Linked DNA regions of Homo sapiens. The protein of the gene in region 1 interacts with the protein of each later gene in a pairwise test. Each region holds a gene or a part of one and is shown on either strand. Other genes may lie near its edges. The genes, in order: LEUTX, AIG1, PLP1, OLFM4, CMTM3, C3orf52 and NDRG4.

What was found.
Region 2: the proteins of LEUTX (region 1) and AIG1 interact in binary tests that used the Homo sapiens proteins (3 or more experiments, as listed by UniProt).
Region 3: the proteins of LEUTX (region 1) and PLP1 interact in binary tests that used the Homo sapiens proteins (3 or more experiments, as listed by UniProt).
Region 4: the proteins of LEUTX (region 1) and OLFM4 interact in binary tests that used the Homo sapiens proteins (3 or more experiments, as listed by UniProt).
Region 5: the proteins of LEUTX (region 1) and CMTM3 interact in binary tests that used the Homo sapiens proteins (3 or more experiments, as listed by UniProt).
Region 6: the proteins of LEUTX (region 1) and C3orf52 interact in binary tests that used the Homo sapiens proteins (3 or more experiments, as listed by UniProt).
Region 7: the proteins of LEUTX (region 1) and NDRG4 interact in binary tests that used the Homo sapiens proteins (3 or more experiments, as listed by UniProt).

Annotation. Positions count from the first base shown.
Region 1 is NC_000019.10:39,783,869-39,787,581, reverse strand, and holds the end of LEUTX (paired-like homeodomain transcription factor LEUTX), read right to left. Parts: intron 3,056-3,713; coding exon 2,904-3,055; intron 1,885-2,903; coding exon 1,447-1,884; 3' UTR 1,291-1,446; downstream 1-1,290.
Region 2 is NC_000006.12:143,063,192-143,067,935, reverse strand, and holds part of AIG1 (androgen-induced gene 1 protein), read right to left. Parts: intron 1-4,744. UniProt on the Homo sapiens protein: Hydrolyzes bioactive fatty-acid esters of hydroxy-fatty acids (FAHFAs), but not other major classes of lipids. Show a preference for FAHFAs with branching distal from the carboxylate head group of the lipids.
Region 3 is NC_000023.11:103,786,840-103,790,285, forward strand, and holds part of PLP1 (myelin proteolipid protein), read left to right. Parts: intron 1-958; coding exon 959-1,127; intron 1,128-1,597; coding exon 1,598-1,671; intron 1,672-2,493; coding exon 2,494-2,559; intron 2,560-3,446.
Region 4 is NC_000013.11:53,045,207-53,049,822, reverse strand, and holds part of OLFM4 (olfactomedin-4 precursor), read right to left. Parts: intron 1-4,616. UniProt on the Homo sapiens protein: May promote proliferation of pancreatic cancer cells by favoring the transition from the S to G2/M phase. In myeloid leukemic cell lines, inhibits cell growth and induces cell differentiation and apoptosis.
Region 5 is NC_000016.10:66,610,478-66,615,063, reverse strand, and holds the end of CMTM3 (CKLF-like MARVEL transmembrane domain-containing protein 3), read right to left. Parts: intron 2,456-4,586; coding exon 2,427-2,455; 3' UTR 1,177-2,426; downstream 1-1,176.
Region 6 is NC_000003.12:112,091,721-112,096,464, reverse strand, and holds part of C3orf52 (TPA-induced transmembrane protein), read right to left. Parts: intron 3,106-4,744; coding exon 2,976-3,105; intron 1-2,975. UniProt on the Homo sapiens protein: Has a role in LIPH-mediated synthesis of 2-acyl lysophosphatidic acid (LPA). LPA is a bioactive lipid mediator involved in different biological processes, and necessary to promote hair formation and growth.
Region 7 is NC_000016.10:58,506,207-58,510,950, forward strand, and holds part of NDRG4 (protein NDRG4), read left to right. Parts: intron 1-180; coding exon 181-267; intron 268-351; coding exon 352-408; intron 409-705; coding exon 706-809; intron 810-1,601; coding exon 1,602-1,658; intron 1,659-1,741; coding exon 1,742-1,793; intron 1,794-2,755; coding exon 2,756-2,803; intron 2,804-2,947; coding exon 2,948-2,983; intron 2,984-3,094; coding exon 3,095-3,146; intron 3,147-4,438; coding exon 4,439-4,477; intron 4,478-4,744. UniProt on the Homo sapiens protein: Contributes to the maintenance of intracerebral BDNF levels within the normal range, which is necessary for the preservation of spatial learning and the resistance to neuronal cell death caused by ischemic stress.

The DNA.
Region 1 (3,713 bases):
GCATGGAAAAACTCCTTCCAGGGAGAGTCTGTAGACTTACCACTAGAGCAAGCAAGGGCAAAAGGCTTGGACAGTGTCTGAACTCCCATTCAGGCTCCCAAGGATCCAGCATTTGTCTGCCCTGTTGACTTCCAGATACAGGCTGGTTAAAAGCATGACTATCAAGCAGCAGCTGGAAGAGTGTGCTGGCAAATCCTTTTTGAGGAGTAACTGGGAGCTGTACATTTTGACCCCTTCTCTGCACTGCTCTGGTTGGGGGAGTGTGGTGGAGGAAGGCTAGCCCTGAAGTGCTTGTGTGCCTGCTTAAAACCACCTTTTTCTCTGTGAGCTAGGGAGACTCACATATGCCTAATCCCTTCCATTTCCAGAGCTAGGGGATTTAGGATGCAGTCCCTTGAGTGCAGGTATAAAAGTTGGGGTGCTCAATGTGTGGACAAACTTCTTCCAGGAGGAATTGATAGACCTGGATTTATTGCTGGGCTGAGCTGGGGTGAAGCTTTGGGTGGCACCTAGCTTCTGTTCAGGCTCTTGTAAGTCTGTAGTTTACCTACCTAGTCAACTCCCTGATGCAGGCTCGTTAGGAACTTAACCATCAACTGTTAGGGTGCTATATGTGTGGTTCACTGCTTCTCTCCTGGGGGAGAAGCTGGGAACTGGGGATTCCTTCCTGATTGTATGGCTCAGTGCCCAGGGTGGGTTTAGTGTTTCTGAGTGCTTCAGCTTTTGCTGCCTGTTTGATAAGACATTTTTTTTCTTGTCTTTTCTTCCTTTTCTTTTTTTTTTTTTTTGAGATGGAGTCTTACTCTGTCGCCCAGGCTGGAGTGCAGTGGTGCAATCTTGGCTCACGCAACCTCCGCCTCCCGGGTTCAAGCAATTCTCTTGCCTCAGCCTCCCAAGCAGCTGGGACTACAGGTGCCCACCACCACACCCAGCTAATTTTTTGTATTTTTAGTAGAGACAGCGTTTCACCATGTTAGCCGGGATGGTCTTGATCTCCTGACCTCGTGATCCACCCACCTTGGCCTCCCAAAGTGCTGGAATTACAGGCGTGAGCCACCGCGACTGGCCTGCTAAGACATTTTCTTAGTTGCCTGGTGTGTAGGAGTCTCTCCACTCACTTCTGACTTTCTTCCAGAGAGAACTGATGTAGGCACAGACGTTTATTCAGTCCATCAATCAGGAACCTCCTATGTCACTGTGTTCCTGGCGTCACTTCTCTGAATACAATCTTTAATGCTGAAATTTGGGTGAGGAGGCACTCAAATGGAGTTCAGAAAATGCAGGCAATGATGAAAGGTAGGGGAGTTCCTTTATTGTTTTTTCTACAGAAAAAGATAAATTCCCAGCCCCTGATCTACTTAGACTGGGGTCAAACCATTAAAGATGTGTGGAAATATGTCTCAGTGGGTCAGATCCAGACCTCCCCTAGAAGTGATGTGTAAGAAGTTACACTGAAGATTGGAGCTGGTCATACTCAAGGCATACTGGAAAAAGATATTGATTTAGGCTGCTGGTGTCATCTTCCCCTGGCAAGTCATAGATCTTTACAAATTCATCTATTTCAAAGAGAGTGGAGGCCCAAGGAGGATTTGAAGCCCCCAGACATATCTGTTCAATGTCATATGACTGAGAATCCCAGGATGAAACCCTCGCAGAGGCGCTGGCTCCTCCAGGATTCTTGATACCAGAAGGCTCACGTAGATCATGGTCATTTGCATCAGAGATTCCAGGACTTACTGGACGAATGTTTGCAGTAGTTATGGCTGAGGGAGTCTCCTCCTTCTTCACTGAAGTTGTCTGGTTTGCTGGCCCTAGTGATGGCCGTGTCTGCATTTGCTGCCGCTGCTGCCTCTTCCATTTGGCACGCTGGTTCTTGAACCAGATCTAAGGAGGGAGGAGGGGGGAGGTTAATAATGGATGTTGAGTATAAAGGGGCATCCTCATGTTCCTCAGGAATTCGGTTTTTTGGTGTGAGAGAGAGTCTCACATTTATTGGAACAAGGGAAGCCCTTTCTACTCTCTGCTGTCCTGGGTTTCAAGGGAAAAGTGGGTGTAGGATTGTACTAGCAATGGGTGGAATATGACCTAGATTGTGATGTATTAAATAGAAGGGTGTTTTTATTAGTGGTGTATTTTTTTTTTTTGAGACAAGCTACCACTCTGTCACCCAGCCTGGAGTGCAGTGCTGCAATCATAGCTCGCTGCAGCCTTGAACTCCTGGGCTTAAGCAATCCTCCTATCTCAGTCTCCCAAGTAGCTGGGACTACAGCCATGTGCCTCCATGTCTGGTTAATTTTTAATTTTTGTTTGTAAAGACATGGTCTTGCTATGTTGCCCAGGCTGGTCTTAAACTGGGCTTAAGCGATCCTCCTGCCTCCACCTCCCAAAGTGCTGGGATTACAAGTGTGAGCCACCATTCCTGGTGCCCAGAGAAAGTATTTTAAAGTCAGAGTATGGGGTGAGAGTTTAGCTTGGGTCATCTTTAGGGTTCATCCAGGTGTTCTCCCATGAATACTTTGTGGGAACTTAGTGACAGGCATCTGGATGACTGTGATGGTCCTGATTAAGCAGAACCCATCCTGAATACACAAGAACAGACCCAAATGGGAGTATCTGAGATCCAGCCTCAAAGAGTCCTGTGTAGCATGGTGGGTCTGGAGTTGGAAAGGTCTGGGTTCAAATTCCAACTCTTGTGTTTATAATGCTTGGAAGACAGCTCTTCTATGTGAGCTTTAGTGTTCCTCAATAAAGTGGGTGCTCATGACAATAAAAATATAAAGTGCTTAACATCTGTCCTTACACATAGCAATTGCCAATAAATAGGAACTGTTATAACAATGATCAAAAGTGTGTGTGAAGCTCTGGGTTAGGCGTGCTACCTACAGACACACTTGGGAACAGACCTTTACTACGGATAGATCAAGTTGTAGCTTTGAAGCCAGTTTCCCCATTGTAGCCAAACTTGGGTGCATGGTCTTTTCAAGCAATTCTCTCAATGCTGTGAGTTGTTTGGAGAGAAATCTTGTGCGTGGCCGACGATAACGCCTTGGCCCTTCTGCAGAGGGAACAGATAAAAGGCTTTCATTAAAAAAATTCGGAAGGAAATGAGGAGAGTACTACATCAAGGGAACACCTGTGGGACAAAAGAATCTGAACAACAGCCTTGAGCCCTAGACCGTCCCTCTGACAGAGCCTACACAAATGAGAAGGAACCAGAAAACCAAATCTGGTAATATGACAACACAAGGTTCTTTAACATCCCCAAAAAATCACATTAGTTCATCAGCAATGGATCCAAACCAAGAAGAAATCCGTGATATACCTGAAAAAGAATTCTGAAGGTCAGTTATTAAGCTAATCAAGGAGGCACCAGAGAAAAGTGAAGCCCAATTTAAGGAAATTAAAAAAAAAGATACAAGAAATGAGGGGAGAAATCTTCAGTGAAATAGAGAGCATAAATAAAAAATAATAAAAACTTTAGGAGACAATGGACGCCCTTTTATCCACTAGACCTAAGAAATGAGATAGACAGCAACACAATGACCAAGAACCCAAAAGCAAATGCAATAAAAACAAAGATAAATAGCTAGGACTTTATTAAACTAAAGAGATTTTGCATGGCAAAAGGAACAGCAGAGTTCTAGACAACCCACAGTCTAGAAGAAAATCTTCACAATCTATACATTTGACAAATGACTAATATCCAGAATCTG
Region 2 (4,744 bases), on another chromosome or scaffold:
GAAAAAACATTATTTGAGCCTTCAAGTTTATATGCATATTTTAGGGTCAAGTCTGAGTCTCCTGAAGAAAAAAATTGCAATTTTACACTCTCTGTATAATATCCAAAACCCCAAAAAACAAAAAACAGAAAAAAATCCACCTAATTTTGTTCCCTGAGTACTCAATAAACTACTGGCCTTCACGTGGCAATGTGTGGTTTTGACTGGCAAAACTAAGTACCATAGTTACATAATGACATGCAGAATCTCTTCTCAAGGTATTTTATTTCCTATTTAAAATTAAGTCATGAACTAGAGACAAGAATATGTTTTATGATAAGTATGTAAATAAATATAAGACTAACTCAAATGCAAAATGTAGTATACTTAAGCAGCTTATTTTCCCTCTTTAACATTTTTTAAATGTCAAAAATTCTCAGCATGTCTAAAAGCAAAAATGGTATCGTCCAGGTACACTTGACTATTTCCTATTCTTTGAGCACCCCAAGCTTTTCCACATCTGAGACTTTATTTATCCTCATCTCTCTCTGGTTTTCTGAAATTCCTTTGCAATACAGATTTAGATAACAAAAAAAGTACCTAGATTATATTACCTTAAACTTCTACAAAAATGCCTTCACCTAGCCAAAATATAAGACCATGCCTTTGGCTTTCATAAAACCATCAAATAAGAAACATTAACCATAAAAATTTTTCTATATATTACACTAAAAACCAATCAAAGACATTATCTACTATGCTAACCAATGTTTTTTTTTTATTTTTATTTACAGACAGGATTTGGCTCTGTCACTCAGGCTGGAGTGCAGTGGCACTATCATAGCTCATTGCAAACTCGAACTCCTGGGCTCAAGTCATCCTCCTGCCCCAGCCCCCACATAGCTGGGACTACAGGCACATGCAAGCACCCCCAAATAATGTTTAATTTTTTGTAGTGGGAGCCTTGCTGTGATGCCCAGGCTGGTCTCGAACTCCTGGGTTTAAGCAAGCCTCCTACCATGGCCTCCCACAGTGCTGGGATTACAGGTGTGAGCCACCATACCCACCCTTAATGTTCTTTAAATAAATATCTGAGTGATAAATTACCTTGAAAAGTCAGTGCCTGGAAAGAACTGTATTTTTCCCAATAAATTGTTATACCTCCTTTCTTTCAACATAAGGACAATACAATCAAATGTGTATTGTTTTTCACCTTAGTTGCCCTGAAGATTATTTAAATTTGTTTCTCAATAGCAATAACTAACCCATCTCTCGTATCTGAAACATATCTTTCTTTTATTTTCAAATTGTAATTTCTTACATTTTTTTGTTATATCACAGTGAAAGTCAATCTGTAATATGTTTTGAAAATAGGCAGAATTCAGGCCAGGCGCGGTGGCTCACACCTGTAATCCCAGCACTTTGGGAGGCCAATGCAGACAGATCACTTGAGGTCAAGAGTTTGAGACCAGTGTGGCCAACATAGTAAAACCCTGTCTCTACTAAAAATACAAAAATTAGCCAGGTGTGGTGGCAGGTGCCTGTAATCCCAGCTACTCGGGAGGCTGAGACAGGAGAATTTCTTGAACCTGGGAGGCGGAGGTTGAAGTGAGCCAAGATCACCACTGCACTCGCCTGGGTGACAGAGTGAAACTCTGTCTCAAAAAAAAAACAAAGAAAATAGGCAGAATTCATATATTAAGACTGCTCTACAGGGTCCTACAATTAATCCATGTAAATGAAAAAACAATGCAACTTAGAGCAGCATTTATCAACCTTGAATGTGCATAGAAATCACCTGATGATCTTATTAAAATGCAGACTCTGATTCAGAAGCTCTGGGGTGGAGCTGGAGATGCCACATTTCTTACAGGCTCCCAGACAAAGTTGATCCTGCTGGTCCTCAGCCCGCACTTTGAGTAGGCAGGGCCTGAACAATATTCTGCCATGACATGAATGAAAAGCCAGTCTAGGAGGAATAATGGGTATGATACGGCCCTAAGAGAGGATGACTCTCAAAATGGCCAGTACTACAAACTAGAGCCAATGGGATTCCCAGATATGTTTCAATCTTTAAAAATCAAGATGTCTTACATCCATCATCAATATTTTAAGTTTTCTAAAAAATCCAGTTCATGGTTTTCAAAGAAGTTGATTCTGACTCATCTGTTAGACTCTACCATATACATATGAATAATGTTCTGGTTGATACATTTTTAAATTCCTATCATTTTGAATGTTTTTGGGAGGAGACAGGACAAGAAAAGAATACTCAATGAAAATTTGGGAAGAGAAAGCTTCCATTTACTTAAACATTTACTAAACACCTATTATACCCCAAATACTACTTTAAGACCTCAAAATACATTTGCCTTTTTCTTTTCATTTATTTATGTTGGTTTTATCCTAATTCTTCTTTATTATCTTTTGGGGCAATTATCATGTAACACACAGCATAATCATTTTGCTAGTGAATGAATCCACATCACTTGAAGAAAATTCATCAGCTGTGATATTGACTAAGAAAGTGTTAATATTTGAGTAACAGCTAGTTTAAATTTTCTTTCTTTCCAGCTTATTTCCAATTAAGTGTATTTCTTCTCCTGGCCTGACATGTTACTTAATGATAGTCTCTGAAATACTTCATAGTAAAGACCTAGTTTTTCCAAAGTTGTCCATGTCAGGCCTCTAAGCCGAAGCTCAGCCATTGTAACCCCTGTGACCTACACATATACATCCAGATGGCCTGCAGGAGCCAAGAAGTCTGGGGCAACCGAAAAACCACAAAAGAAGTAAAACAGCCAATTCCTGCCTTAACTGATTAACCAACATTACAACATTCCACCGTTGTGACTTGTCCCTGCCCTACCTTAACTGATCAACCGACCTTGTGACATTCTTCTTCTGGACAATAAGTCTTATGATCTCCCCACCATGTACCTTGTCACCCCCTTCTCTGCTAACAATAAATAACCACCTTTTACTGTAATTTTCCATTAGCTACCCAACTTCTATAAAGCAACCCCTTCCCCATCTCCCTTCGCTGACTCCTTTCTCAGACTCAGTCCGCCTGCACCCAGGTGAATTAAAAGCTTTATTGCTCACACAAAGCCTGTTTGGTGGTCTCTTCACACAGACACGCTTGACAGTCCAGTCTTTACAAATCCTCATATTGCCCACTGTTACACATATGTATGTCTCCTCCACATAATTTCATGGATGAAGTAGGAAAAAACTTGCATTTTTGTTAAAGCTAAAATTAACCAGTTATCTACTATACATAAAGGGCTAGCTGAGTCACTGCATTTATTTCATATAAGTACAAAAAGAGTTAAGTTTTTTTTCTAAGTCAGAGGCTTTAAAGCCAAGTATACTAGTTTTCTATTACTGTGGTAACCAATTACTATCAATTGAATGGCTTAAATGACACAAATTTATTATTTTACAATTCTGGAGGTCAGAAGTCCAAAATACACTACCATTAAGCTGTCAGCAGGTATGTGTTCCTGGAAACTCTAGGAGGAAAACCATTTTTTTGTCCTCTCCAGCTTCTAGACACCTCTCACACCCCTTGTCTCCTGGCTCCATCCTCCATCTTCAAACCCAGCATTGTCGTATCTCTCTCTGACTTTCTTCCAGTCACATCTTCCTCCAACAAGCTCTTGTCTTCTGTTTCCCTATTCCTTTTAAGGACCCTTGTAATTACATTGGGCCCAATGGGATAACTCAGGATAATTACCCTATTTTAAGGTCAATTGATTTGCAATCTTAATTCCATCTGCAACTTTAATTTCCCTTTGCCATGTAACCTAATGTATTCACAGGTTCCTGGCATGAGAATGTAAACATCTTTGGAGGCCCATTATTCTGCCTACCACACCAAGACAGTGTTCTTTTTCCATTTACTAACTTCAATTTTCCAAAAACACCTTAGTTCTCTTACAGTTTCTCAATACTAGGAAAAGAAACCATTGGAGAATAACAGTATAAGATTACTGGTAGCAACAATGTGTATTTCAGTTTTTGACCATAAGCTCTGAATCTACTGGAATGACCCTCATACCCAAGGAGAGAAATGAATACAGCCAGAATGGCCACTGCCACATAATCATCTGCTCCTGGATGCATAGAGCCTGAGATTCCTGACTCAGATCCTGGTAAACTGAAGCCATGGAATATGGAATCCAACTGTGGCTATCAGGATAAATGATTCCTGCAATCCAAGTTGGCTAGAAAAAAGGGCCTTCACATTACAATTTTAAAAAGTTAAACTCTTGCAAAATTACTCCAATAAACTTAGACTCATTAATATTGTACAAGGCACTAGGTAATAAAGTTTACGGTCTTTTTAACATTAAAAGTGAAAAGTAAAATGGCTAAATTATAGTAGCCTAATCATTTCATGCCATTACTGAGGATTGACAGGTTGGTTGTTTTAACAGCTGTACAATGCTTAAGCTCTAAGGATTCTAAATCTCAAATAATAAAAAGAATAACACTTTGCATGAATGTTTTTATGAATATATCTCAGACATACTTTCTCACAGGCACTCTTTGTTAAAGATAATTATTATGTTTCAATCAGGAGCCACAGAGTAAAAAATTACAACGCTGGCTAAAGGTCCTATACAATCTGAAGCTAAATATGAAGCAAAGTAAATGTTTCACATTTGAATCTACTGTCTGACTTCTGGGATAGAAAAAGTCCTGTATGGTGATTAGTATTTAAAACAGGCAAGTCCAATCATTGAATGCTAAAAGATAA
Region 3 (3,446 bases), on another chromosome or scaffold:
GTGAGGAAGCGATGGCTGCAGCCGAACGAGAAGGTCAGGAAGAACGTGGTGCCCAGCTGGCTTAGCCTCACCTTTCAAAGGTTCCCTAAGCAAATTTCTTCTCAAAACAGAAAGCATGAGTTTTGTGGGATGCTTTGTACAATCAGACCATTTCTAAGCCATCTGTTGGTATCCCTTTGTTCCCTTCCTAGTAGGTACCACAAGAGTGGATCTAACTGGACAAGAGTCTAAAATGCTGCTCATGTGATTGAGACTTGGGCACCTGATCTGAGAGGGAGGATGGATAATAAAAATTAAATAATTAACTCCAAGGTGAAATTTACAATGTTCTGGGATCCTGCACAGTTCGAGGTCCCAGAGGGAATTGGAGTAGATCTGCATGTTGAATGTTTTATTGCCTGAGGGTTATCCATGCTTTGAGTGAGGTGCACATTTGTTTTCAGTCTCTGGAGTTAAAGATCCTTTGGCGGCTGAACATGTGTGGGTTCCAGCAATGTCTTTTTGTGGCCAGCAGTTAGCTTAGAAAGGTTTTGTATCTGAAATTTTAATCTCCTATTGGCTTTGTTCAATGGCTAGGGAACAAAAATGTTCCTATGGCAAGGAACATGTTCTAAGCTCAGCCTAAGGCACAAAATGGCACGACTTTCTTTCAAGATCTGTTTTGATTTCTTTACACCTTATCTGCCCAAAAACATCCTCTGAAGCCTCTCTAACCCAGGGATCCTCCTCACTCTTCCCCTACCCATTCCCCCCACCCTCCGTTATACTGGGGCCAGTTATCTAGTAGATACTGCCAATTACCCTTGGCAGAGGTGCCCTGCTCACTAATTTCATTTGAAGGAGAGCCCTGGAACCTGGTTTTAATGTCTGGCACACGCCACTCCAGGATCTCCCAGTTTGTGTTTCTACATCTGCAGGCTGATGCTGATTTCTAACCACCCCATGTCAATCATTTTAGTTTGTGGGCATCACCTATGCCCTGACCGTTGTGTGGCTCCTGGTGTTTGCCTGCTCTGCTGTGCCTGTGTACATTTACTTCAACACCTGGACCACCTGCCAGTCTATTGCCTTCCCCAGCAAGACCTCTGCCAGTATAGGCAGTCTCTGTGCTGATGCCAGAATGTATGGTGAGTTAGGGTACGGGTGCTTTGGCTCTCCTACCCACTATGGAAGCACTATATATTTGGTTATTTTCTTAGTGTAAGGAGGGTGGTGATTATGAGAAAAATATAAGATGATGAATGATTGGGTCTTAGTTTATTAATCCTTCCCTACTGAAACCAGAGAGGTTTCTTCCCCGGGAAGGGAACTTGGAAGTGGTGGGAGTTTTCTTGGCCATTCACATTGGCCTACTCTAGTTGACTGCTGTTCACAACCCCAAAGCAGCACATTTCAATAACAAACACAAGGTTTCACCACTGTTCAATACCACCTTCTCTTTTTTGTAAACCTGTAGAAAAGAGGATCCTGATTGTTGGTAGAATCCAACTTTACAGCCAGGATAATTAGAGATGGAAGAAGGGCTCTGGGGGAAAGTCTCCATGTGGCCCCGTAACTCCATAAAGCTTACCCTGCTTGCTTTTTGTGTCTTACTTAGGTGTTCTCCCATGGAATGCTTTCCCTGGCAAGGTTTGTGGCTCCAACCTTCTGTCCATCTGCAAAACAGCTGAGGTGAGTGGGTTATTTGGGTTATTTTACAAGGGAGTAGCTAATACCATACAAATTACACCCATGGCCTTCAATTTTAAGGACTGAAAGTTTCCCTTTGCTGGATTTTGAATTAGCCGATTGCCTTCTACAACATGTTGGCTAAGTGTGCCTGAGCCAATGAGCATAGAAGGTAAAACACCTGTTTTCTCTAGAGTTGCATAGAAAGACTTCCTTTCCAACCCTTCCCCTCTTAAAAGAGAAGTTTGTAGCTTTAGGTAAAGATAGAGCCTAATGGCAAAATCCCCCACATGAAAATTTTCATTCCTTTAGTTAAAAACCATATCAAGAAAATGGGCTGTGCACAGAGGCATTCATAGGTTTTATGAAAACATTTTCAATTTGGAACTTCTTTATCTCAAATGAGAGGTAAAATAAGTACATTTGAAAGGGAAAGCACTGTATTGAGAACAGATATTATATACAAATGAGGCAGGGGAATAAAAGTAAATCCGGGGGAGACAGGCAGTAAATTATTTCTTTGACAGCAAAATGTTGACTTTAAATTTTGGGCCCCTGGGCACAACTGTAGGGAACCAGTTAATTATTTTGGAGTACTGTACTATTTCATGACTATTCTGTGATCTGGGTGTTAATGGGCCAGGTGCTATGGTGTACACTGAAGACTGGGAGGCCCACATTTAGGGAAGTGAAAACTTAGTTAGAGATGTGGAATTAGCACACAAGAAAGATATCAACACATTCAGAAAGCTGTATTCATGATTTACAGTGGAGCATATTACTGCTGTTGCAAGAAACAGTTCTTCCTCTTTCATTTTCCTGCAGTTCCAAATGACCTTCCACCTGTTTATTGCTGCATTTGTGGGGGCTGCAGCTACACTGGTTTCCCTGGTGAGTTGACTTTGAATGATCTTGGCAAGTAAATAGGCCTGAGATAGTGTGGGTACAGCTATTCTGAAAGGCAAGAAGGTAGACTGCTTCCATCCTTGAAATGCTGGAGGGAAGCTTCTGGGAAGATAGCAAAGGGTGGAGGCTCCGTACTTCTACTTGCATTGGCAAGGCAGAAAGACATCACAAATTAGATGGGAACAAGAAAAGTGGTATGAGGAAAGAGGTAAGAGATTCATAGACACGAATGATAATATTTAGTATTTATAGAACATGTAATGTTGCCAAGTACTTTGCAGTCATAAATTACGGTTAATTCTCAATACATTTTGATCAGATCAGTGACAAAACACTGAAACATCACGAAACATGACTTGCTATAGCCTGGAATTCTATATACTATCAATATGAATCCACTTTGGATACTCTCCAGTGGATTTAGTTACTCATATGGAAATACTGGGAGGACCTCCTAACATTATTAGAATTGTTATGATTATAATACAATGCTATGTCCCAGGTCTTGCTGATAGTGCTACAGTGCCCTGTGAATGTAGTGTGCTCATTGTGCAGATTAAAAACCTAAGGCACTGAAGGGTGAAGTGATTTATCTGAAGTTATTTTATAAGCAGTGATCAGACAAGATGAGCTCACAGAACTCCTGGCCCCTACTGCTGAGGTTTCCATACAGAGTCAAGTAATTTCTCACCTTGTAAAACGAATTGATTCATTAACCAGGGGAGAGCTCTACTGCATGATGTGGCTGTGTGTCTACAGCAAGCACCCTATGACTCTAAGTCACTCGGACATATTGATGTGGCAAAGCCCAAATATTGTTCACTTCCCTGAGGAAAACTCAGTGCTAGATCAAACAGAGGTGTGGAATAAAT
Region 4 (4,616 bases), on another chromosome or scaffold:
AAACCTCCTCTTAGTTCAGTGCATTCAGTCTCAATGCAAACCCAATGTCAGCTCTACAGAGAACTACATTCTGTTTCCATGGGTGGGCTTTCAATCTGGAAAATAGGAATAATGAAACCAGCAAGAACTATATTTAAAAAGTTTGGAGGCCCAGAGAGAGGAAAGGGAGACTTGGTGAATTTAATATATTTCCTTCTATCAGAAAGCATTTTGCAAATATTATCTTATTTTGTTTTTCTTATAGCAAAATCAAGGAAGCAAGATTATTCCACAATCCTACCCTATTTCTATAAATCCACAAGATTTATAGAAATCTATCCCAGAAAGAATAGTGATGAGGGAGAAGATTTTCCCAGGCAAGGCTTCATGCCCTTCCTCACTCTCCCCTTCCTTGGGACCCCCAATTGCACATCCACGCCAGGTACCAATCCTGCTTTAAGCTATTCTCAGAAGAGGATGTTTTAAATATAGCATTTTATAGATCCAGAAAGATGGTCCTATAATGGTGGGATTTCACCCTTGAGAAGCCATAAAGTTATTTTGGGGCAACATTGCCTGCTCCGTACCCAATGCACAGCCCATCAATAAATCACTTGCTGACCGTCCTGCTGCAGAGTTACATGGTGAGTCCTGCTGTTCATAACCCATATGCTATTGTGCCATAGAATGACATGCAAGTATTTCATCTTTCCATCCAGACACTGTCATTGTCACAATGTGTACAATCAAGTGGGACAAGATTCACTGGTCCACTGAATCTACATTCCCTGTAACACTTGGGTAAATAACTCAGTCTGGGCGATCAACCCTTCACATTGTACTCCCGCTGAAATGCCTGCCATCCCAGGAGTTTATGAGCTATAAAAATAAAATAAAGTTCCTCCAGTATTTTTATAATAACTATCCAAAGAGTTGAACACACATTTTCTGGGATCTTAACACTCAAAAAAACTCATGAGATGGTTTATTGGATAACAAAGAAAACCCAACTTCAAGTATATTTGAGGTCATTTTCCCTCGTCCTGCTGCTCAGAGCAGAGCAGGTGAGACAGGAAAGGAGCAGAACCTGAATTGTTGGATTTGGCCTGAAATACTTGCAGGGACTCAGAGAGCCATTGAGGAACATGAGGTGAGCTGGAGCCAAAAGCAGAGCTCCAAAGAATTGCCTGAGATTAGCATGGAGGCGGGGAAGGGGGAGCAAAGCCTTTGTCTCTGGGTCTCTGCTGTGTCCAATATGGAAAGACCCATTCCTTTCCTTGCTAAATGCTTTCCCTCCCCATCCTCCTCACCCAAGGACTGCTCAAAGGTGAAACCATTACTAGAAATTCTGTTTTTATTTTTCCAATCGGCTGGGGCTTTTTGGTCCCAGAATTAAATATATGCTCCTTAAATGCTCTCATAAATCCACAGTTGGTGAGAAAGCCAGCCAACCATACAACAGGTAGAGAAATGAAACCACTCTGTATCCAACCTCAAATAATTTTGCATATCATTAAGCAGAACACAGTCACAGGTTTATTTTAATAATGCATGTGCCATTTCATAAATAAAAAAGCAACGTGTTTTCAGCCAAGAGACTATTCTCCACTGAAGAAATAATAAATAAAATTATAAATTATTATTTCTTCTACTAAAAGTGATCTCTCAGATGAATGCTTGTTTGCTTTTGTTTATGAAACAATGCATGAATTATTAAAATAAAGTTAGCGGTGTGTTCAGTTTAATGATAACAAAAACTGTTCAAGTTTCCATATGCTACAAACTGGATTTTCTAGCTAAAGTATCTTCCTGAGAACTTATTTATTTAACTACATTTCACTCTGAGGAAAGTCACTTTTTTTTCTTTCAGGTTGGAAGACAATAATTGTTTGCTTCATTGAGTCTTGCCTTCCTGAAAAGAAAATATCCCAAACCGACAGCAACAAAATATTTAAGGAAAATTGATGATGCATATAACTTATTCAAGCACTACCAAGAGGTTAAACTATTCTGTCCCCAGATGTGGAAATTTTTAGACATGAAGGAACCAAAATAAACTTCTCAAAAAATTACTATTACTACTGCTATTATCATAAAACTAATTGCATTATTATTAGTATAATAGTATTAGTACTATTACTATTGTTACTACTACTAATAGTAATAGTGGCTCATCATTTCATAAGTTGACCAGAAAATTCAAATTGCCCAGTGTAAATATTAAAATGTATGAAACTTTGTTTTTCTCACCTCCCAAACATTCCTAAACACTTTCCTGTTCATTTGTTATCCTCCTTTTATCCTCTATGGGTAAGGATAAAGGGCTATTTTTAGGGCCCCGGCTGTGGTAGAAAGGAAGTGGAAATGGGGATGAGAACTCAACATTGCTGCCAATGCTACAAATGTGGCCACAACAATGTCAGACCAGGAAAAATGCTATGGCGGGCTTCCTCGACTCCTGGCAGCAAACCATCTTGGACACGATACTGAAACTGACAGCCAGTCCAGTGCCCACTGTTCCTCAGAGTCCCCATCCCCCCATCCCATCTTCACTGAGCTTCTCACCACCCTCCCTTATCTCATGCTCCTTGCCAGCCCCTTCCTTCATGTCAAGGTCTTAGACATACTTCATTCCATACTTCATACCCAGTTTCCATCCCAATTTCACCCTGACACTTGGGCAACAGCCCATTGCCCAATCATGATCCAAGAATTCTGAAAGACCATTGAATCATTTTGCATTTTCTGGTGGAAGAGAACACACAGCACAGAACTGTCAGGAGCAACAGTACCCTTTTACCTACTCCACTACCAAGGAAGCAAAAATAATTTGGTGTTAAGCAGATAGGTGAGTTGTTGGAATTTTCTTTTCACTCCAGAAATCACAGGTGCACCTCTCTGTTAGAGCAGCTATGGAAGGCAGCCTAGTATGGAAAATACTACTAGACAGATTCTAATTCAAAGCCTGATTCCAACAGTAGTTGTGTATCCTTGAGCAAGTTACTTAACCTTCTGAGCCTCAGTTTCCTCATGTCAGAAGAAAAATAATACCAACTCTGCAAAATAGTTACGAAAAATACAGAGAAGACATGTAAATGTTACTCAGTAAATGGTAAATATCTCAATATAATCACATCATGTTACAACTGGAGGTTTAGATGTCTCATTTCCTAGATAGTGGCTTCTGGAGGTTTCTTTACTCATGCTGGTAACCCCAGTACCCAGAACAGGGCCAGCCACACAGTGGCACCAAATTATGTTTGTGGAATAAAGGAATGAAAGATTAATCAAGTCACCTAAACTCAGCTTACCCTTATTTATAAAACACTAGCCTTCTACCCTGCTACATATCTGGTTTTTCAAAAAGCCTGGCATTTACTCCATGGAACATAATTTGAGGAACCCTCTATAGAAGTTTAGCCTTGGTTGGCACTCTCTTCATCATGCAATTCATTAGATGGCACCATGGTACTCTGAAAATACCTGAGGAAGCCATAATCATGAGAATTTAAAATATTCTGACTTGGCTTTTTAAAAGTATCATGGTTAGTAGCATTTTTTTGAAGCCAATAATTATATGCCTACAGAGGAAAATTAGTCTTGGATCTATTAATGCACTCTCTCAACTGGGCAACTGAACTTTGTTTGAGCCAGGAGGAGAATATGATTGACTTATAAGAATTAGGCAATTAAAACAATCATAGTCATAAAATGATTAAGACTAAATTGACTCTGAAGTGTTGGATATATGCTGTTCAACATGTGGCTCTTCCCTAAGCTTGAGATTTTAGCAGGTCACCCCATTTCTTTCAGACCCCATTTAATCATCAGCTACTTACTGAGCATCACTATGGACCAGCACAGAACCTTGCATCCCCAAGCAAACTGGAGATCAACCCCTGAGCACCCGATCACATTTGGCCTATATACAGTCATTTAGATTCACAGGCAAAACAGAGACAGACTGAAGTTTTAAGGGAAAAAAGTTAATGAGTAGAAGGCCAATTATTTTAGATTAGAAAGTTCTATGAAATGAGGCAGAAAAAGGACGTTGTTTGTAGCAAAAACCAAATAGGAAGCATATTTTATTGAACCTGGGATACATTCACTTGTTCTAAGTTCAAGCTGACCACTGGGTCAGCAAACTGTAGCTATAAGGGAGGGGGCCCAGAGAGCGCAGAGTTACTTTAGAGCTGAGACTTGCATATAGTCTTTTTTATTCTGTGCAACTCTGCAGTGAAAAAAGCAGACAGGCCAGATTTTAAAGTCCCATAATAGAGAATAACTTTAATTAAAGTCTCCACAGGCTCACAAGTTTGTGGTGCTTGGGGATTTTCCAATTCTGCATTATCAACCAATCCAAACAGAAAGAGAGCAAGTGAAAGAAATTGATTTAAAAACATGACCAAAAGTCAGTTTAATATAAACATCATAAATATAATATGAACAAAGCTGGAAGAGAGCCAAGTGGCTTGGCAGGGATTCAGGTACAGCCAAGGTTGTGGGAAAGTGAGTAAAAATCTGGGTCCAATTTGCTTAAACAACACAGCTGGGCTAGGATGGATCACAGAAGTCTAAGTGTGAGGGCCTAGGGGAAAGTTCTGGGAAAAAAAAAATCCAACAAAAACAACCCAACA
Region 5 (4,586 bases), on another chromosome or scaffold:
GGAAGCCCTGGGTGGGCGTCCCCTGGCTGGCCTGGCTTTTGGGTTCAAGTCTGTATGTATGGAGTGGGTTGGGGCCCCAAAGCTTTGCTGCTATTGATTTGTCCCCGACAGCAGGCAAAGCCTCACATTGCCCTCAATTTTCCCCCTTTCATTTGAAGGACCAGTTTTTCATGGTACTTGTCTTGATCTTTTTCATAGTGTTCAAATCTGTATTTTTGTATGTAGAGGGAAATAATTTTCTCAACACTAATCGTTAATAACTATTGTATTAAATTGTCATGAAGGAACTTGTTTAATAAATGGACGTGTAAGGATGTCGTTGTCTCTCCTCACTCTGAGTGGCCTCCTCTGCCCCTTAAACGTTACGGATCCAGTTCCTGAAATAGGGCTGCTGTGTGGAGGTTGAACAGAGCCACGATCCTCAGGGTGGAACAAGGCCTCTGTGACACCAGCTTTGCCGCTTTGCCAGGGCTTACAAGGTGGAATGTAAATTCCACCAGGGGCCTCTCCACTCCTGCACACCCAGCTTTCTTACCCATTTTCAGCACATGTGGTGTGTGACAGTTTGGGTGGAATGTCTTGTCTTTTCCCATCAGCCTGGATAAGAATGCGGACCCGGGTCCTCCAGGGCTGTAGTCCTCTGGGCTGTTATGCAACCAGCTTCCAAACCAGGAGAGCCCCAGGGTTCCGGCTGCCTGAGGCTGCCGTGAGACACTATCCTGATGTGTAAGTGAGAGGGCCCTGGGCCAGTTACCCGACCTCTGTCTCAGTTTCTTTGTTTATAAAACAGGGTAGTGTGAGAACTAGAGCAGGGGTCCCCAACCCCTGGGCAGTGGACTGGTACCATGGGACCTGTTAGGAGCCAGGCTGCACAGCAGGAGGTGGGTGGCAAGCAACGGCATTACCGCCTGAGCTCTGCCTCCTGTCAGATTGGCAGTGGGATTAGGTTCTCATAGGAATGCGAATCCTATTGTAAACTGTGCATGCTACGGATCTAGGTTGTGTGCTCCTTATGAGAATCTAATGCCTGATGATCTGAGATAGAACAGTCTCATCCTGAAACCATCCCCTCCCACCCTCACCCCAACCCACCCGCCAACCCCCAGTCCATGGAAAAACTGTCTTCCACGAAACTGGTCCCTGGTGCCAAAAAGGTTAGGGAAATAAAGGATTAAATGGTAGTCAGATTTCACGTGTATTTTTGCTAAAACTGAAAGCTGTCAGGATCCACATTGGTGTTACCAGTTTGTACTGAAGCCTGATACAATACCCAACAGTATTGCTCTGGTTTTTTCAAGCACACACTCCAAGCAAGTGGTCAGTCTGGCTTAATTCATTATGGCTTTTTTTCAGGGTAAGAGATTCACACGCAAGAGAATAAGGCTACAAATGCTCCAAACATGGGTCCAGAACTCTGGCTCTTTTGTGAGGCCTAGAGTCACAGAAAATGCCATCTGTTAAGAAGCTGCTTTTGCATAAAAAAATATAAAAAGTTACAAAATTCCATCAAAGACAGATACACAGTATAAATCGTTAGGTGAACACAGAAGGCTGGTCTCATCTCCTGCAGTGGCCCATAGACCTGCCCTGAGGTCTGGAAGTTCACTGTCCTGAGGGTCCAGGAACTCCTGCCTGCTGGCTGGGCTCTAGGAAGAAGGAGGGTTTGGCTGGGCCCGCCCAGCTCCCCATGACACTGTCACTGTGATGCCACTGTTGTACCCTCTGTCTTCTGGACCAGTCAGTCTATGAGCTCTTCTTTGAAACAGTCTTAGACCCAGAATGGTCATCTCACCCCCAGAAGACATGGTTTCCAAGGGTGGGAGGTGTTAGTTATGGGTGCCGAGCCCCACTTCCTGGGCGACAAGGCAAAGGTCAATTTCTCCCTGCTTCAAGAATGAAGAGGGAACTGGTGCTCCTTGAACCAAAGATTCTTGGAAGGGTCATTGTCACCAAAGTGGCTGGTGTGGGCAGGAGCACCAAGTGCAGACAAACCCACCGGGGCCTGGCGGGGCAGCCCTGTCATGGTTTCTGTCTTTGTTCCTGTTAGTGAAACAGAAGACCCCCGACCCCCGCCACCTAGCAGCATGGAACACCTGCTGCCCAGATACAGACAAGGCTCTGCTTTGTCTCCTTGTGCTGGTTTTTGGCAGAGACGTTAAAGGGCTGAAGGCCTGTGGGACAGAAATGGGGAGAAGGAGTGGGATACCCAAGATGCCCTCATACGCAGCGTGGTCAACAGTGCTGAGCTGAGGGGCAAGCCTGGTAGGCTGGGCTCAGGCAGAACCTGAGGCTGTAGGGGGCCTGCTGTGTCCGCAGCCCCCTCTGCAACTCAGAAGTCCAGGCCTCCGCTCCAACGCCAGCGACCCCTGTGAGGCGCAGGGGTGGAGGCCTGTGTGGCTCAGGTTGCCAAGGCACCCGCCAGGCCTTCAGTCAGAGTCCGAGTCGGAATTCTCTTCTGAAAGGAAAGCAGAGAGGATGCTTGGCAGGAGGCTCAGGGCAGCGGTGCCTGGGAACGGTCTCTGGGGAAGCACAGCTGGGTTGCTGGCAGGAGCCTGGGTGCAGGCCTCCTGCAGCTGACTCTACCGTTCCCAGTGATCGCTGGCATCAGGGCAGGCCGCGGGCCTGAGGCCCTCCACAGGCAGCAGCCACTTTCTCTCTCTCTTTTTTTTTTGTTGTTGTTTTTTGTCTTTGAGACAGAGTCTTGCTCATCACCCAGGCTGGAGTGCAATGGCGGGATCTCGACTCACTGCAACTTCCTCCCTCCCGAGTAGCTGGGATTATAAGCGTGTGCCACCACACCTGGCTAATTTTTGTACTTTTAGTAGAGATGGGCTTTCACCAGGCTGGTCTTGAACTCCTGACCTCAGGTGATCTACCCACCTCAGCCTCCCAAAGTGCTGGGGTAACAGGCGTGAGCCACCGTGCCCGGCCGCAGAAGCCACTTGCACCTCCAGGGTGTGGGTGCGGGTGCAGGTGGGGGTGTTTCCACCCCAAGACTGAAGCCCAGGTGCCCCTTCCTCAGGCCCAGCCCCTCCGGAGTCTCCCTGGGCTTTTCTCAGCTGGGTGGGTCAGGGCTGTACCTCTGCATTCCAGCTCTACCCCCACCCCCAGGTTCAGCAGGACAAGGTGAGGACAGCTATTTTCTTGTCCCCCAAACTAAAATATACTGGAAAATCAGCAAGCCTCTTTTTAGCCATTTTATATCTTCAATCCCCCTCCCCCAATCCTTGTTTAATATTGTAATCAGAAACAATTTTATAATGGTAAGGGCCTGCCTATGAGGTGTACCTCGAGGGTTCCTGAAATCCCAGTTCTGTCTCGGAGCTCTGTAGAGCCTTCTGGAACCTCCACCCCAGAAGGAAAAGCACCAGAGTCACTAACCCCCAACCCCACCCCAGTGCTGGTTGCTACTTCCTGATGCTCATCCCCTCCCTGGCCAGCCTCTGTCTCTCAGAACCCCAGTCAGTCCCCATGAGCTGTCGCTGGCTCATGGCTGGGCTCAGGGCTGGGGTGTGGGCAGCCTAGTCCCTAAACCCCAGCTCTGTCCCTCACTCCGGTTCCTGGGCTGCACTCGTCAGATTTTGTGGGTTTTGCTATATTCAATTTTTTCCCCCCGAGATGGAGTCTCACTCTGTCGCCCAGGCTGGAGTGCGATGTCTTGATCTCAGGTCACTGCAACCTCTGCCTCCCATAGGTGATTCTCCTGCCTCAGCCTCCCAAGTAGCTGGGATTACAGGCGGGCACCACCATGCCTGGCTGATTTTTGTATTTTTAGTAGAGATGGGGTTTCACCGTGTTGGCCAGGCTGGTCTCAAACTCCTGACCTCAAGTGATCCACCCGTCTCGGCCTCCCAAAGTGTTGAGATTACAGGCGTGAGCCACTGTGCCTGGCTGCTATATTCAATTCTAACATATAAGTCAAGAATAATTTTACAGCAAAATAATTGTTACATATGTGAAACTCTCCAAATAGTAAAACAAAAAAAACAAAATAAAACCACCCAAGTTTCCACTGACGTTTACTAATTGGTCCCTGGGCTGGTTGTCTGGGATCACTTGCTGCGGGCAACTGGGAGCAGGTTGCAGAGCCTGAGGAAACCGCCTGGGAGCTCTAACCTAATATTTGCCAAGGGACGGGATGGGATGAGTGGCATTCATTTTCAGCAGAAGGACGGTTTCTGGGATTCACAAATCCCCATGGCCCCAGCACCTGGCTGTTAGGAAACCAGTGGCTCTTAAGCCTAACCTACTGGTCCTGCCTAGGGAAGATCCCAACCACAGGGTGGGGCCTGCAGGCCCTTCCAGAGCTGCCCTTGTCTACCTGTCCAGCCACAGGCACTGCCAGCACAGGGGCACATCCGCCTGGTCCAGAGAAGCATCTCCCCAGGCAGAAGCGCCTGCTGTCTCTGCTCTCAGCCTTCTTCCCTACACCGGCCTGGTCTCTTCTGCCTGCACACTCCTCTACTGCCATCTGTCAGTACCCAGCTCTAGTGTCCCCTCCAGAGCCTCGGGCCAGCTGACACCCAGCGTGGGCCTGCTTTCAGCTACTGTATCCCTCCCTCTATCGGCTCCTGTTTTACTGTCGT
Region 6 (4,744 bases), on another chromosome or scaffold:
AACAACCTTAACGTTATCTACATGCCATAAATCTTGCCCTTATGCAATTATAAAACACATCCCTTCTGAAGCATGCATACCCTTTTTCTGTGGTATTTAAGCCCTGGGCCTTTGGGGTAATGGTGCAGGAATGCACCATCTCCTCTCACTGCTGCCCAACGCATGGCTTCTGTTCCTAAAACCCTGTTAAATGTTTCTTTCTGAGTAACTGGATTTGTCAGTTTTTCTTTAGCCTCTCAGCTTCCTCAGCCTTTCTGGGTAGTTTTGCAAAGACCTGCCTACTGAAGAACAAAAGTTAACACTTCCGCCTCCAAGCTTCAGTCTGAAGACTACAGAGCCTTGAGACAGGAGATTAAGGGGTCTAGAGAAGGGTAAGCAGGCAATGAATGGCAAATATAGTTCCTGAGGAACCTTAGTCACCCAGTAAATCCAGACAGCCACAGGCACAGCCCTTGACTCTCCCAACAGTGTTTTTATCCCCAGACAACATTTCCCATGCAGTACTTGAAAGTTCCACAAATATCTGATTCATATTAATGGGCTTGGCAATTAGGAAGTGGCTGATTATTGAAGATCATCCCCAAAAAATGCCTACGGAACTGCTCTAGGTGAGGCTGGGACTGTCACAGAAGGGAGCCCCTGCCCCACCCCTTTTAACCTACTGTATCTCCCCCCACCCCCACGTCTAACATGACTCTCCCCACAGGATCAAATACCTAAGAGCTGAGATGCCAAGTAAAATACAAGTATTTCCTTGATTTAAAAAGTAGTTTGAAAAAATCTCTCTTACAGCATTGACATGTTCGAACACAAATTTACAGTTAAATTAAAAATAAAGTTTGCACTACAAGTGTTAAAAAAATTCTTCCCTGAATATTATCCCATAACCTTTTACATCTCCAGAAAAACTGTGGAAGGAAGTGAAATACCTTCCTCTTGCAGACTGCTCTTTGTGAGGTGAAGAGGTTAGATGACTTTTTGAGAATGGAAGACAGATCCTGGGTCTTGCGCTTTAGAATCCTGAATATTAAACCATCTAGATCTCTTGAATCATCCTTTATGATAGGCCCCAGATGCCAACAGGATCCAAATATCAACTTCTAGGATAGCACCAACTAGTTATGTCAGGACAAGATTGTGCTACTCAACCTCATTTTCAACATCCATGTGTTGGAATTGATATGAATAGGAAGTATGGCAATGCTCACACCAAAACTATTGTCCTCAGCATGACGGAGGAGGTGCAGCACACTTCATTAGCTTTTTCCTACCTTAACACCAGCTTATATCCTCAAACAGTCATCCAACACACCTGAACAATGCCCTAAGTAAATACGTAGATATGGTGCCTGGCCAGGAAACTTATGTGCTGGAGGTTGGCTGATGTCATCAAAGTTTTCCTATTCCTTCAGGAATTACAAAACTCTAAGACAGGAAATTAAGGGGTTGGGAGAAGGGGAAACAAGCGGTAAATGGAAAATGTAGTTTCTGAGGAAAATTCCTGAGAACTCCCTCTGGAGAGACTGGGGAGTTACCCCTTCTTCTTCTCATTCTATGACTGGGTTTGTAACTGGGAGCTGGACTCAACCCATGCCGCATGAAGGCTGGATCATGCTCGGGAGTATCCCAGCCTCAGTCGAGCCCCTCTCTACCATCACCCCCACATATAAATAAAAACAATTTTCTTCTTTCCCATTTTGAATTGAAATGATTGTCCACTGGAGGATGTAAAAACTTTAACGAATACTAATAATCATTAAAAAATTGGTAACTACCTAAAGAACTTTAAATGATGTGGAAGACTGTATCATGCAAATCATAAAAATAATAATGTTCACAAATAATTTTTAATGACTTGGCAAAATGATCTAAACATAATATCAAAATCCTAAAGGTAGTCCACAAGACTATAAAGAAATCTAATCTCAAATTATTTTAGAAATGCAACTAAACAAAAGACTAGAAGAAAATATGACCAAATATTAATATTACAGATGGGTTTTATGGGTAACTGAACATATATCATTTTTCAATCAAAATAAGCAACAACATGAAATAATATATGGAATAGATGTAGTCATATATAGTTAGCATTCTATACATTTTTTGTTTTATACACACATACAACACTAATAAAATAAACAGTCATTTCTAAAACAAGTTAAAATTGGGCCAAGCATGGTGGCTCATGCCTCTAATCCCAGCAATTTGGGAGGCCAAGGCAGGCAGATCACTTGAGGTCAGGAGTTCAAGACCAACCCGGACAACATGGCAAAACCCCGTCTCTACTAAAAATACAAAAATTAGCTGGGCGTGGTGGCACATGCCTATAATTCCAGCTATTTCGGAGGCTGAGGCATGAGAATTCCTTGAACTTGGGAGGCAGAGGTTGCAGCGAGCCAAAGTCGTGCCACTGCACTCTAGCCTGGGTGACAGAGTAAGACTTTCTCTCAAAAAAAAAAATAAATAAATACAATAAGTTAAAATAATGACAGCTTATGGACACATGGTTCTTCAAAGTTTTTTAAAACTCTTTCAAATACATTATTTATTATTTTATCATCATAGTAATATATCAGACACACCAGATGAAGTATAATTATTTTTAGCAAACAAATGAAAAGAAAAAGAATTCAAATCAACAGGTATCAGGATATAAATAAAATATAAATCAGTGTTTAAGTAAGTTGAAACATTAAGAAACCTCTTCAAGATCCAATGAGCAGAGTTTAAAGTAAAACACTGGTTTCTATATTTCTTCTGGAGCTTATAAAACAACAAAATACAACAACAACAGAAAACAAAAACACAAGAATCAGGCATATCTCCCACCCATACAATATATTCCAAGCCGGTCTTAAATTCACATTATAAATAATGAAATGGCTATGAGTACATCTTCCATTTCAGTGTAAGTCACAAGCCTTAAGTAAGTTCTTAAAATGTGTTATTTATTCACATCTAAATCCTCTTACCTGCAGCAAGACATAAGCCTATGATGATCACTGTAATGACACCTAGGAAAATGGAGGTGATGATCATCCACAGTTTGCATCTTCCAACCACATTCTTATTACAGGAGCTCCAGGGGCTTTCCTTGTTAGCCTAGAAAGGCAGAGGGAGATTGTGAGGCAGTCATTGTGTTGCAACAGACAGTTCTGAATACCTAGGATGTGCCAGAGACACAGAAATGAAGGCAGCAAGACCCTGACCTTAGGGCAACACTCTACTGAATCAAGTTTTCAAAAAGAGAGATCAGAGGCAGAACAGAACCTCATCAAGAAGTTAGCAAGAAAATCCTCTGGGGGCTCTGAAGTGGGGAGGATAGGCAGGATTTTGAAAGATGGATTTTTGAAGGCATTCCAAACCCAGGAAAGAGCATCCAAAGTGTGGATTCGTAATGGAACCGGCCAGCAGACTAGCCTGCCGACTGGAATGTGGGTTTCAGAGGCAAATAATGAAAGTTAAGATTAGAGAGAGTGAAAGGCTGGGAGCACACTCAGAGGGTGTTGATAGCTGTCCCAGAATAGATTGGACTTAATTGGGTGTGCACTGGAAACTTGAAGGTTTTGAAACACCAGAGCCGAGTTGAAAATTAAGGGAAAATCATGTGTGGTTTAGAGTGGAAACACCAAGAAAAAGCTACAAGGCTACTGCTGTGGCCTAGGTTCTATGTAAAAAAGGGTTGGGAAGGGAAATGAAAGGACAGCTGCAAGAGACAACAGGAAATAAGCTGCAAAGCTGGAGTGAGAAGGCTGGAGTGAGGCAGAGGAGGGGTCAATGAAAACAAGTACAACTGCTATGGTTTATTGAGCACCAGCGTCATTTCACTTAACCCTAACAGCCCTTCAGGGTGTGCACTAGTCCATTTCAAAGACGCAATTCAGAGAGATGAGCCAGAACCAATCCCTGCTGTGTGTCTCCACAAAGCTCTCCAACTTTCCCTTTTGTCCACATCACTGTGCAGAGCTCCGGTTTATGAGGGTGTCACAGAGGGGCCCCCACCTTACCCTATATGGTCCCATGACTCTTCTCCTACTTCCCACTCCACCATTAGATAATTCTTTCATGGAGACCATGGGAAACAACAGAATACAATGGGGAAAAAATGTGTCTGTATCTAACACACTTGGATTCCAAACCAAGATATACCACTTAAAGGCAAGGTGGCTTTAAGCAAGCTACTGAAACTCATAGGCCCCAAAGTCCTCAGCTTTAAAATATATAAATAGTAAATTAGCTCACAGGACTGTTGCAAAAACTAGAGATAATGGACACAAAGCATCTGCTAAACAATTATTGGGAGTTCGGCCAAAGGGTGCAACTGCGCCTCAGTCATTCCTCAGCGTTCACCATCCCACAAAGCAGCAGCCGGCACTCGAGGAGACTCGCTCCTGACCGACACCTGGCCACCTGGCCTGCTTTCTCTCCCATTCTTTTTTTTTTTTTTCTTTTTTTCTTGAGATGGAGTCTCGCTCTGTCGCCCAGGCTGGAGTGCAGCAGCACGATCTCCGCTCACTGCAAGCTCCGCCTCCCGGGTTCACGCCATTCTCCTGCCTCAGCCTCCCGAGTAGCTGGGACTACAGGCGCCCGCCACCACGCCCGGCTAATTTTTTGTATATTTAGTAGAGACGGGGTTTCACTGTGTTAGCCAGGATGGTCTCGATCTCCTGACCTCGTGATCCTCCCGCCTCAACCTCCCAAAGTGCTGGGATTACAGGCATGAGCCACCGCGACTGGCCTT
Region 7 (4,744 bases), on another chromosome or scaffold:
AAGAACTGTGAAGGGTTCAGTGAGAGGAGGACAGGCAGGGGCATCTGGACATGGGTGTGCATGCACAGACCCGGCTGTAGCCGGGTGGCTGATCAGCAGCACCTTGAAGACTTTACAGAGTGTTTCTGCCATCTGCACCCATCCTGGCCCCGCCCGGCCCTGTTTCCCCTCTTACTGCAGCTCATCTTCCCCGACCTGGTGGAGGGGCTGGTGCTGGTGAACATCGACCCCAATGGCAAAGGCTGGATAGACTGGGCTGCCACCAAGGTGTGTGTGGTGACCGGGGGTGGGGTGGGTATACCTAGGGTGGGGTGAGGGGCGGCACTCACGCTGGCGCCCTGCTCCCTGCAGCTCTCCGGCCTAACTAGCACTTTACCCGACACGGTGCTCTCCCACCTCTTCAGCCAGGTAAGGGGGGGAACTTCTGCAGATCTGGGGTGATCTGGGATTTGCCCCTCCCAGCTGGCTCGGTAGGAGGCAGGCGGGTGTCTTTGGCATCTGACCTGGCTCACTCCAGATGCTAAGCCATCTGAAAGACAGACATCCCCTCCCAAGGCCCCACACCTCCTACCTGCCCCCACCCTGTCTCCCCTGCCTGCTGAGTGGGGCAAGGGCCACTCTGGCAGTGACATCTGCCAGCCCCCTCTAAGCCTGCGTCCCTCTGTCTGCCCCTCTGCATGCCTCCATCCATCTCCCTGGGCCTAGGAGGAGCTGGTGAACAACACAGAGTTGGTGCAGAGCTACCGGCAGCAGATTGGGAACGTGGTGAACCAGGCCAACCTGCAGCTCTTCTGGAACATGTACAACAGGTGCGGGTGGGATCAGCAGCCCTGGGACCCAGCACACCCCAGTGGGGGCCCTTGCACACTGCCCCCTGAGGGAGGCAGGCAGACAACACCCTTGCCCTGGTTTGTAGATGGGCACGATATTGGGCCTCAAAGGAGGTCATTTCCTGCACAAGGTCACACCCTGTGAGGGGCAGAGGGGAACAGGGTTTCAGACTCCGGGCCTTGGGCTCTTCCACTTTTCCTCCTCCCCTGGGGGCTTCCCGCTTGGGAATGTTGGGGGTGTTAGTGACATCCCTGACTCCAGTAACCCAGCCTTGATGTTGACGTCTGCAAAATGAGGAAGAGGTCGGATGAGCCTGTGGTTTTCAAGCTGTGCTCCTTGGAGCCCCCTTTAGGGGCTGCCCTGCCCTGCAGGAAGGTGGCCAGGCCCCCTCACTCACGTGCCCTCCTTCTCATTCTTCTACAAATATTAAGCACCTGCTGTGTGCATGGTGCTAAGAAAACAAAACAATAGAGAATAGAGAGACCCAGGGCCTGCCATCCCATATGGTCCAGGAGACAGGCCAGTAGCAGAAACTCCCACAGCACAGGTGGCGGTGCGCATGGCTCTGAGGGGGATAGAGAGCAAAATTTGAGAGCCCACCTGGTATGTGCTAGGGAGTCCAAAAAGCCGTGACAGGGAGCCTCCAGTTCATTTATGCAGAGCAGGTCCACGCCTCCCTGCTTTACCAATTGGCAGTGTTGGGCTTGGGATGCCCCTCATCCTGTCCTGGGGTGCCCACCTCTGCCTCTGCCCCTCCCCCTGCCCCACAGCCGCAGAGACCTGGACATTAACCGGCCTGGAACGGTGCCCAATGCCAAGACGCTCCGGTGAGTGGCCCCTGGCCCTCTGGCCTGCCCTGGCCTTTGCCCCCATGACCCAGCCAGACAGCCCTTTTCCTCTGTATCTGCAGCTGCCCCGTGATGCTGGTGGTTGGGGATAATGCACCCGCTGAGGACGGGGTGGTAAGTGAGGGGCTGTGGGCTCACTGGGGGTGGGAGGTAGGGGTGAGGGGCTCACTGGCCCCTGCCCAGCAGGGACAATTCTTGATCCAGCCCAGGGGAGCCTCCAGGGCCAGCAGTGGACGGTGGGCTTCTTGTCCACTTTCCCACAGTCTTGCCAAGCCTCACATCTGGCATAGCCCCCATCCTTCTGGCTGGGGAGGCCTGGAAATGGGGAGAGCTGGGGCCAGGGCTGGGCCATCAGAAGGTCCCCTCTTCCCTCCCCAGCAGCACAGCCCCAACTTGGTCCCTACCCACCTCAGGCCCAGGGTGTACGATCTTTTTTCTAAAATGTGATCAAGCCATTATAAATCATTAACGCATACAGCGGCACGGTCTCCCTTTTCCCGTCACCTGCAGCGGTTATGTTTGGGGGCCGTGTGTCACCTCTCCTGCTGGAACTCTGGGAGCAGGTGGCCTGAGGCTGGGATGCCCCATCAGCACAGAGCTGCTGGGAAGCTGCAGGGTCCAGAAGTGCCCAGAGCAGCCCCGTGCGCCCTGAAAATACCAGGCTTTCCCATGCCCACTGGGAGGTCCTGGAAGAGCAGGGTGGTGGGCTGTGCCAGCCCCCTCCACCCAGTCTCTCTCAGACCCTCGGCACCCCTCACCTCACTGCCGAGGGCACTGGGGCTTTCCCAGGCCAGTCCCACCACGGCAGCCCAGCCCTCGCCTGACTCCCACTCCTAGCAGTTGTGAGTGGGCTCCAAGGGTCCCAGGCCCTTCAGTGGGGCTGTTAAACTGGTCTCCAAGAACATGGGGAGCCCTGGGAGAAGAAAGCCTGGGAGGAGCAGCCTGTCACAGCTGCTGGGCCTCCCTCTGCCTCCCTGCACCCCCTCTCCTCCCCGAGCTTGGGGCATCAAACCTGCCTTGGCAATGGGGGTGGGGAGGGGCAGGGGCTGTTGCTGAAGCTGGCTCCTTGTCCTCAGGTGGAGTGCAACTCCAAACTGGACCCGACCACTACGACCTTCCTGAAGGTGAGGCTTTCTTCCCCAGCCCTGGGCCAGCTTCCCTAGCATGGGCCCAACCTCAGGGAGGTGTTTTCCTGGGGTCCCAGCCAGGGTGGGAGCTTGTCCTGGAGTGAGGGCCCTGCTCAGGTCACCCCACTCTCTCCCTTGCAGATGGCAGACTCTGGAGGGCTGCCCCAGGTCACACAGGTGAGACTTTTGGCCCTCCTGCCCTTACATCTATGGGGAGGGGGAAGCCTCTACCCTACCTGCTAATCCTAGGCAGCCAATGAAAGCATGTGCTTGTCCTGCCCTCCGCAGCCAGGGAAGCTGACTGAAGCCTTCAAATACTTCCTGCAAGGCATGGGCTACAGTGAGTACATTTCCACCCCACCCCACACCACCTAGAGACCGGTGGGCAGGCAGTGCTGGGGTTGGGGCTCCTGTTTGCAGGGCTGGCACGTGGTGTCAGGTGGTAGTAGGGAGCCCATAAGCATAGGAGTTTTGTGTGACCTGGGCCCCGGATGCTGGGCCCCACAGATGCCACCTGAGTTGCAAGTTGGCCATCCCAGGCTGTGCCCAACTCCCCTTTGCCCTTAGGGAGGACTTGGCGCACTGTTCTGATGGCAGTGCTGGGCCTACTGGGGGAAGGGACTCTTCCTTCCGTGCTGGGGGTCCAGGGCCAGGGGCCGTGTCCTGCCAGGGAAGCCTGTCTGGGGGTGAGGCACACTCCCCTCACCCGCCCCAGGGCTTGGGGTCAGAGCTGGGTCTATGGCACCTGAGAAGGCCTTTTGAAACAACTCATGGCTGCACCCAGGGGCATCATAGGAGTGGGCTTGGAGTTTGGGGCCAGGGAAGGCAACTGGGGCCGCCTGGCATTCAGAGAGCTGAAAGCAGCTGAACCTGGCTTGGCAGATCTGAAAATCTGGGTCTGGGGTGGAACCAGGTACACACACACAGACACACACACACACACACACAACACACCCCTTGTGTGTCTCCTTGACTTCCCCCTTCCCTCCAAGACATACCTGTTCCTCCAGGTCCCCACTGCCAGGAGGCAAACTTCCTCTTCTCAGTTTGTTTTTTGTTCCCCTCCAGACTTCAGCCTCTGGAGCTATCTCCAGGGCAAACAGGAGGGCTGCCTGTGGGAAGGCTGGGGAGGACACCCAGGAATAGAATGCTCTCTGGAGCAGGGCAGAGCCCTAGGGCCCACAGGGAGGCTCCGCAGGAGCACAGAGTCTGGAATCAGGGCACAGCAAGCATTTGCGAGGTGAACGGAAGAACATTGTCAGGCGCTGAGACGCGTTCTCAGGGTCCTGGGGAGAAACTCCACCAGGCAGCCCCAAGCTGGGAAGGGCACAGAGCGGGCAGGCCTCCCCCATTCTGTATGCAGGAGACTGAGGCCTAGGAGAATGGTGAGGGGATAAGCACCCCACCTGTCAGGGCTTCCTTGGGCCAGAGATCCTTCTGGGGGCCACTGCTGGGTGGGCAGGCAGGAGTGGGCTTCCAGAAGCCTCTGGCCCTGCCCCCAGCCTCTCTGTGCCTGTCCTTTGTCCCATCTCTCTGGCTCATCTCAATGCCCTTGACTCAGCGGACCACGCTCTTCACTGTGTTGTGTCTCCCCCATCCCCGCCCCCTCTCCGGCTCTGTCTTCTCTCTTAGTTGCGTACTTGAAGGACCGAAGGCTGAGTGGAGGAGCAGGTAGCCCCACGGCCCTTCCCCTGATGCATGGACGCCCAGCCTCCTCCTCCCCCGCTCCTTCCTCTGCGCAGTGTGCTGCAGCCAGGCCGCATCTTGCTGTGGTTTGGAACCTTCTTGTGTCCTGTTCAACTCAGAAACCCCACAGATTCTTGCTTTTCTGCAGGCTTGGCCTCTAGGTTGGCTGGGTTGCAGAGCAGTCTTGCTTCTAGGTTGTCATGAGCTGCGTGGCTTCCAGAGCTCTGGGGATAGGAAACAGACCCTCCTTAG